2 separate regions of the Homo sapiens genome follow, and region 2 is linked to region 1. A link means that fine-mapping ties the variant in region 1 to the expression of a gene that starts in the linked region. Tissue or cell type: whole blood. Region 1 holds a variant in brackets; the other region holds the start of a gene. All regions are shown on one strand. Distances are between the middles of the regions.

Region 1 (4,000 bases):
CTCCCCAGGGCAAGTCAGAGGTGGGACAAAGGGTGGGGCTTGAGGCACTGGATTTGAAGGGAGCTTTATTGGAGGCCCAGAGGGGATGCAGCCAGCAGGCCCTGGGAAGGAGGCTTCAAATAACCTATTGAAGAGTTTTAGGGATGTGTCTTACCTTGATCAGAAAGCTTTCCCTCTTTTTTTTTTTTTTTTTTTGAGATGGAGTCTTGCCGTCACCCAGGCTGGTGTGCAGTGGCATAATCTTGACTCACTGCAACCTCTGCCTACTGGGTTCAAGCGATTCTCCTGCCTCAGTCTCCCATGTAGCTGAGATTACAGGCACGCACTACTACGCCCGGCTAACTTTTGTATTTTTAGTAGAGATGGGGTTTCACCATGTTGGCCAGGCTGGTCTCAAACTCCTGACCTCAAGTGATCCACCCGCCTCGGCCTCCCAAAGTGCTGGGATTACAGGCGTGAGCCACTGTGCCTGACCACAGCTTTCTCTCTCTATCCAGGAATATCTCCTGCAGGATGCAGGTCTCCTGTCTAGGTGAGGGTCTCTTAATGGTTTCTCTCCTTAAAGAGTCTCATGGGGAAGGGTGGCTCTCTCTAAAGGTGGTTTCAGGTACAGTCTCTCCAGGGAGACACCACCTTAAGTGCCTCTCACCTCCCTAGGTTGTGGGGGGGGGTCTCTTGGGGCCATTTCTCAAATATCTCAGGTGCAATTTCAGGGGGCTTCTCTCTTTTTTTTTTTTTTTTTGAGACAGAGTCTCGCTCTGTCGCCCAGGCTGGAGTGCAGTGGCACGATCTCGGCTCACTGCAAGCTCCTCCTCCTGGGTGCACGCCATTCTTCTGCCTCAGCCTCCCGAGTATCTGGGACTACAGGCGCCTGCCACCACTCCTGGCTAATTTTTTTTTGTATTTTTAGTAGAGACGGGGTTTCACCGTGTTAGCCAGGATGGTCTCGATCTCCTGACCTCGTGATCCGCCCGCCTCGGCCTCCCAAAGTGTTGGGATTACAGGTGTGAGCCACTATGCCTGGCCAGGGGGCTTCTCTCTTTAAAAAAGGAAGGGGCTCCACTGGGGGTCTCTTGCCACCAGGCAGGGAGGAGGGGGTCTCACCATGAGCTGGAAGAAGAACCAGGCGTGCTGGAGGATGGCCTCGCGTACGGCACTGCTGCTGACCACCCACTGCAGAGCCAGCTCCTCGTGAAGCAGCTGGGGACAGAGGCAGGGGTCACAGAGTGCGAGGTGCCACCCCTTCCCGTACCCCCTCTGGAGACATGCCAGGGGAAGATGCAGCTGGAGGGCTCGGGGTTAGTGCAGCAGGAGCCAGGCAGGAGGAGGGGGACAAGAGGAGTGGAAGTGCCCTTTCCCTGGGCTCGCCAGACCCCCCTGGACTCTGGATGGGGGAGGAGCACTGGACCCCTTTGCTGGGGACCAGGACAAAAATAGCGTCATCCGCACCTCCCCCCACTACCTTCTGCACAGTGGGTCTCAGCTGGGTGGCTGGTGGGGCCGAGGAGGAACCCTCGAGGTAGGAGGAGGCTCGGCTAGAGTTGCAGTCGATGGCCTATGATGGGATGTGATGGCGAGGAGAAGGTTAGTGTGGATGAGGTGAAGGGGTATGTGGTTGGAGGAAAGACGTGTTCACACAGACAGGGATGGG[G/A]AAAAGAGGTAGGTTAGTGTGAATATAGAGAGAGAAATGCTTCCACATGGATGGACCAGGGCCATGGATGCCAATGGGGACAGGCAAGAAAGAGAGATGGGCCGGCGTGGGTTGGGAGGGGAGGCTGGTTGGAATGGCCAGGGTGCTGTGGGAGTAGACGGGGCAGTGGAGGCAGGGACAAATAAAAGAGTCGCTGGAGAGAGCTGGGTGAGTCAAGATCAAGGTGTGTGGGTATGGGAGAAGAACGTGAGGCTGGGCGGGGTGGCTCAATACCTGTTATCCCAGCACTTTGGGAGGCTGGGGCAGGAAGACTGCTCAAACCCAGGAGTTTAAGATCAGCCTGGGCAACATAGTCAGACATTGACTCTACTAAGACAAAAACAAACAAACAAACAAAAATATATATATATGGCTGGGCCTGGTGGCGTGTGCCTGTAGTCCCAGCTGCTCAGGAGGCCAAAGCAGGAGGATTGCTTGACCCTGGGACTTGGAGGTTGCGGTGAGCTGTGATGGTACCACTGCACTCTAGCTTGGGTGACAGAGCAAGACTCCATCTCAAAAAAAAAAAAAAAAAAAAAAGGAGGATGCTGTAATCCTAGCACTTTGGGAGGCCGAGGCAGGTAGATCACGAGGTCAGGAGATCGAGACCATCCTAGTCAACATGGTGAATGGTGAAACCCCGTCTCTACTAAAAATACAAAAATTAGCTGGGCGTGGTGGCAGGCACCTGTAATTCCAGCTACTTGGGAGGCTGAGGCAGGAGAATCGCTTGAACCTGGGAGGCAGAGCCTGCAGTGAGCCGAGATTGCACCATTGCACTCCAGCCTGAGTGATAAGAGCGAGACTCCGTCTCAAAAAAAAAAGAACGTGATGGAGGAGGTGAGAATAACAATGAAAACACAGTACGCCAGTGACCAGTGACAGCAGTGCAACCACAACAGGCAGGAGGAGTGTGGATGGAGTGGGACCGAGAACACACGAAGGCTGGGAATGGGTACATGGTGTGTGGGGTGAAGGCAGAGGAGATGAAATCAGTGTAGACAGCAAGAATGTGTGTGGCCAGAGAAGGTGAGGGTGAGTGTAGACGAGGTGTAGAGTGTGACCGAGTCAGTGAGTCTAGAGGACAGAGAGGAGGATGCAGAGGTGGAGGAGGGTGAGTGTGGACAGAGGAGGTTAAACACAAGATGGGGAAGGAGGAGAAAGACAAGGCAGGAAGATAAGGACAGAGGAGGTGAGATGTTGGTGAGGTGCCAGGAATAGCAGAGAGAGCCCAAGGTTCCAGGCCTGGCCCTGCCCAAGCCTGGCTTGGGCCTCAGTATCCCCATCTGTGAAATGGGTATAGGCAGAGGAGTTCAAGCTCCACTCTCGCTTCCTCCTTCGCTGGTTAGGGGGTGAGGCTGCTCGCAGGAACAGGAGGTCTGATGACAGAGACGACCCAACCCTGGGACCTACTCTGACACTTGAGGGCTCTCTAGCTACCCCAGTCCCAGCCATACCCTGGCAACTCACTGTGCACCGTGAGGGCCTTCCATTGAAAAGGCCCAGCCTCAGTGTCACCCAGATTTCCAGATTCCCAGCAATCCAAGGAAATGACTGCCCAAAGGCCCCCCCTGCTTGTTCTGCTAGGAGTCCCCTGGGCCTGTCATAGGGTACAGGTTACCTTGGTGATGGGCACAGAGCTGGAATAGGCCCTAGGGCCAAGTGTGTAAGGAAGCAAGCCCTGTGGCCTCCTCTCTGTGCGTACAGTCCTCTGACCTTGGTCCCAATATTTGTACATGCCTTTCCCTCTTCCTGAACACCCACACCCACCCACCCTTCCCTAGCTGACTCTATCTTACCCTTCGGGTCCCAGCAAAAGATGTCACTCCCCTGGAGAAGCCCCCAAGACCACCCAGAGGGAAGCTGGTATTCGGTTGCTACTTGCTTCCTTTCCACGCTGTGTGATCATATACTTATGCATTTGTTTGATCCGTGTCTATTTCCCCAACTAGCTGGAAGCTCAGGGTCAAGGCCAGACCAAGAATCTATCATCCCAACAAAATCCCACTGCAGTGCCCTCAGCCCTAACTCAAGCACAGGCTCAGGACTGCTGGGGGAGCACTATATTTTGAGTCCAAACTGCATCCGAAAATTTGGAGTGTTATCTCCATTTTACAAATGAAGAAACTGAGGCTCAGGAAGATGCATCCAATTGCTCAGAGCATGGGGTGAGCTCATAGCAGAGCTAGGACTTGAACCCAGGTCTGTTTGGAGGCAAAGCGTCCCCCTACACCAGGTACCTGGAAAGAGGCAGGGTAAGGGGAGCTCTTTGTCTAAAATGGGATAGGGGAGCCGAGAGGTTCCATTCCA
Region 2 (4,124 bases), 32 kb after region 1:
AGCTCTACAGTATCCAAAACCCCTCTTTCTCACTTGAGTAAAAACCAGGACCCAAGGACATACAGACCAAAATGCAAAGAAACAGACAGCAAGCTGGGCGCAATGGCTCACGCCTGTAATCCCAGCATTTGGGAGGCCGAGGCAGGAGGATCACTTGAGCCCAGGAGTTTGAGGCCAGCCTGGGCAAGATAGTGAGATCCCGTTTCTACAAAAGGTTAAAAAGTTAGCTGAGTGTTGCAGCATACACCTGTAGTCCCAGCTACTTGGGAGGCTGAGGCAGGAGGATCACTTGAGCCCGGGAGATTGAGACTGCAGTGAGCCAAGGTATCACCACTGCACTCCAGTCTGGGTGACAGAGCAAGACCCTGTCTCAAAAAAAGAAAAGGAAAAAAAAAAAAAGCCTGGGTGCAGTGGCTCACACCTGTAATCCCAGCACTTTGGGAGGTGGGCGGATCACCTGAGGTCAGGAGTTCGTGACCAGCCTGGTCAACATGGTGAAACCCCCTCTCTACTAAAAATACAAAAATTAGCTGGGTGTGGTAGTGGGCGCCTGTAACCCCAGCTACTCAGGAGGCTGAGGCACAAGAATCGCTTGAACCCAGGAGGCGAAGGTTGCAGTGAGCCAAGATTGTGCCATTGCACTCCAGTTTGGGTGACAGAGCGAGACTCTGTCTCAAAAAAAAAAAAAGAAAGAAAGAAAGAAAAGAAAAAGAAAAGGAAAGAAAAAGAAACAGACAGCAATAATGTTTGCAGCCTCAAAGACGCCAAAGGTCTAAGACATTTTGAAAGCCAATTTACAGACAAAGATAATGATAGAACATAAAAATTGCCCAGCCATTACGCCCCAGCCACCAAGTCTCATCCCTCCTCTGCTGAGAACTCCCCATGGCTCCCACCTCACCTGGGGTCCAAAGTCAAAGTCCCTTGCACAGCCCACACGACCCTGTACATTCTACTCTTACTGTCCCCCTCCAGCTCTCTGTTCCTGCCTCAGGGCCTTTGCACAAACCCTTCCCACTCTTTCCCCCCACAAACTGGCCTCGATCGATCCCTCTCTCATCTCCTTGAGGTTTTTGCTCAAAGGCACCTGCTCATCCAGGCCTTCCTGACCCACCTCCCGCATCTCAAGCAGCCCCCACCCTCCCATCCCCCTTCCCTGTCTTCTTGTCCCTACAGCACTTGTCACTGACAGGTAATCTACTCGATCAGGCTTCTGGTCTCTCTCCGCCACTATATCCCAAGAGGGGGATCTTTTGTCTCCATAAGACCAGGGCCCAACCCACAGGGCAGCTCTTTCACCTGGGGGCAGTCAGGACAGGTCCCCCGGGGAGAGGATACCTGAGCTTCTGAACGCACCCTTGTCGCAAAGACCCCCCGCCAACTGGGGGCGAGGCTTTTCAGCCCCAGAGAGTCTGATATACCCCTCCCAGGCTGTGACTCTCACAATCCCCAGTGGCCACGGAAATGGATCCCCCAGCGCCTGGGGCCTGTCCCCTCCCCCGTCTGCCCACCAGCTGGTTCTGTCCCCAGCCCCCACTCCCTCCATTCAATCACCCATCCATCCCCAGCGCGGTCCAGCCCGTGACGGGAGAGCCTGAAGCAGAAGGTGGGGGGGCGTCCACAGCTGTCCCCCTTCCCCCCCCCCGACAGCTGGGCACTGGACCCTGGAGGGGGAAGGGCACGGGAAACTCCTCGAGGGGTTTCAAACGCCACCAAGGAGCCCATCTCTGTCCCCAAATCTCAGAGCCTGGAGCCTCCCTGCCCCAAACCAGGCACTGAGGAAGGAACAGAAAGTCCGGCCCACCCCGATCTCCGAGAGCGCGGGGACAGTGAGGGGCCGAGAGGCGGACGGGGAGCGCAGGGAGTTCAGGGGGCGCCCGTCATCCGCATCCCCACGCCACCTCCTCCGGGAAGCCCTCCGGACACACCCCCGCGCGTCACGGAGGCAGAACGGCAGCCGCCATCGCGCTCCCAGCCCCGACGCGACTCCCATCTGGGACCCCCGCCGGGACCCCCGCGGCCCTCCCCGCCTTCTCCCGCTCCCAGCCCCGGCCGGAGGAAGCTGGCGGGACCCGGGCCGAGGCGGAAAGGGGTTGAATTGGGGGCGCCCGGGCGGGGAGGGTCGCACCGCCCCGGGGCGGAGCCGGGCCACGTGGGGGAGGTGGGAGGGGGCCCCGCGGCCACACTACCTGTTGATCTTGTGCGCGAAGGCGCGGCGCTCGGAGGCAGCCATGGTCCTCGCGTCCCGCCGCCGCCGCCCCGGGCCCCGGCCCCGCCGCCGCCGCCGCCTCCCGGTTCTGGGCAGCCGGGGCGGGGCGGGGCCGGCGCGGGGGCGGGGCCCTTCCGGGTGGCCCGGGCCGCTCCGTGCTGCCCCTGCAGGCCGGAGGGGTCGCCTGGAGTCCTGGGGGCTGGGGAAACTGAGGCTGGGGACGGAGAGGAGGCCCCGGGATCCAGGCTGGGCGGGCCCCAGACTCCCGGGCTGGGGGGACGCTCTTTCTACCCTAGGAGAAGGGCTGGGGAAACTGAGGCTGAGGAGGGAAGTTAGGGAGAGGAGGCGCTGGGACCCAGACTGGGGGTGCCCCAGACTCCCGAGCTGGCGGGGGCGCTCTTTCCACCCTGGGAGCTGGGCTGGAGAAACTGAGCCTGAGGAGGGAGGGAGGGAAGGGAGGCGCTGAGACCCGGGCTAGGTGGACCCCAGGCTCCCGGGGTTTAGTGGGGTGGTCTTACCACCCCAGGAGCAGGGCTGGGGAAACTGAAGCTCAGGAGGGAGGGAGGGAGGGGAGGCGCTGGGACCCAGGCTGGGTAGGCCCCAGATTTCCGGGGTTTGGGGGGCGCTCTTTCTGCCCTCTGACTCCTGGCTGGAAAACAATAACGATGTTCATGTATCTAATAATCATACCTGTAAGTATAATCGTGGCCGTGCATGGTGGCTCATGCCTGTAATCCCAGCACTGTGGGGGGCCAAGGCAGGAGGATTGTTTGAGCCCAGGAGTTGGAGACCAGCCTGGGCAACATAATGAGACCCCGTGTCCACAAAAAATGCAAAAATTAACCAGGCATGGTGGTGTGTGCCTGTAATCTCAGCTACTTGGGAGTCTGAGGGAGGAGGATCGCTTGAGCCTGGGAGGTCAAGGCTGCAGTGAGCTGTGATTGTGCCATTTCAATCCAGCCTGGGTGACAGAGCGAGACCCTGTCTCAAAAAGTCTAATTGCTAAGATGTCATTGAGCCTGGCCCTGCAATTCACACATGCAGAAGAAATTATTGTTTTCCTCCTTTTACAGATGAGTAAACTGAGGCACAGAGGTGTTCGGGTGCTTGCTCAGTGTGACTCACAGGGGTCTCCAGCGCCTGCATTGTCCGTGCTCCCAGTCTACAGCATGGGAGTCAGAGGAGCCTGGCTAGGCACTGGAGTGCTCGGAGATGTGCCCCAGGTCCAGGTGGTGGGACCTGAGTGAGCCAGTTTGGGAGTCTAGACTTTCGGGGCCGCCTCTACCAAGAGGAAGAGGTGGGGATGTCTTGGTTAATCTATGGTCTCAAATCTCTCCCCACTGGCCTCTCTCCCAGCACTGCTGCAGCATTTTTAGAGAATTCTCCAGCCGACACTCCCCTCTGGAGGAGCTCACCCCTTTCTCACCTGCATGCCTCTGCACCGGCAGGTCCTTCCTCCTGGACAGCCCTTCTTTCCCTGGTCAGCAAATGCCCCAGGGAGAATTTGAGGTTGAATCAGACAAGGCCGTGGCTCTGCCTCAGGGCCTTTGCACGTGCTGTTCTCATTCCCATCTATGGGTTGCTGGCATTTTATCCTCTATTATTTATTTATTTATTTATTTATTTATTTATTTATTTATTTATTTATTTTGAGGTGGCATTTCGCTCTTGTTGCCCAGACTGGAGTGCAATGGCACAATCTCGGCTCACCGCAACCTCTGCCTCCCAGGTTCAAGCGATTCTCCTGCCTCAGCCTCCCGAGTAGCTGGGATTACAGGCACCCACCATCACACCTGGCTAATTTTTTGTATTTTTAGTAGAGACGGGGTTTCACCATGTTGGCCAGGCTGGTCTGGAGCTCCTGACCTCAGGTGATCCACCCGCCTCGGCCTCCCAAAGTGCCGGGATTACAGGA

The links. PIP is the estimated chance that this variant, and not a neighbour inherited with it, causes the effect.
Region 2: DOCK6 starts here. The variant in region 1 is fine-mapped to the expression of DOCK6 in whole blood (TOPMed, PIP 0.99).

What each region holds. Positions count from the first base shown.
Region 1 is chr19:11,227,836-11,231,835 of GRCh38, forward strand. It overlaps DOCK6 (dedicator of cytokinesis 6), which reads right to left. Exons shown (of 48, transcript NM_020812.4): 23 at 1,105-1,200. Among named protein-coding and RNA genes, the nearest start is that of ANGPTL8, 9.8 kb to the right of the region's middle. The variant G/A (reference allele first, on the strand shown) is at 1,652.
Region 2 is chr19:11,260,208-11,264,331 of GRCh38, forward strand. It overlaps DOCK6 (dedicator of cytokinesis 6), which reads right to left and starts at 2,317. Exons shown (of 48, transcript NM_020812.4): 1 at 2,190-2,317. The coding sequence starts at 2,233. RefSeq lists silencers at 1,892-2,031, 2,112-2,171, 2,242-2,401.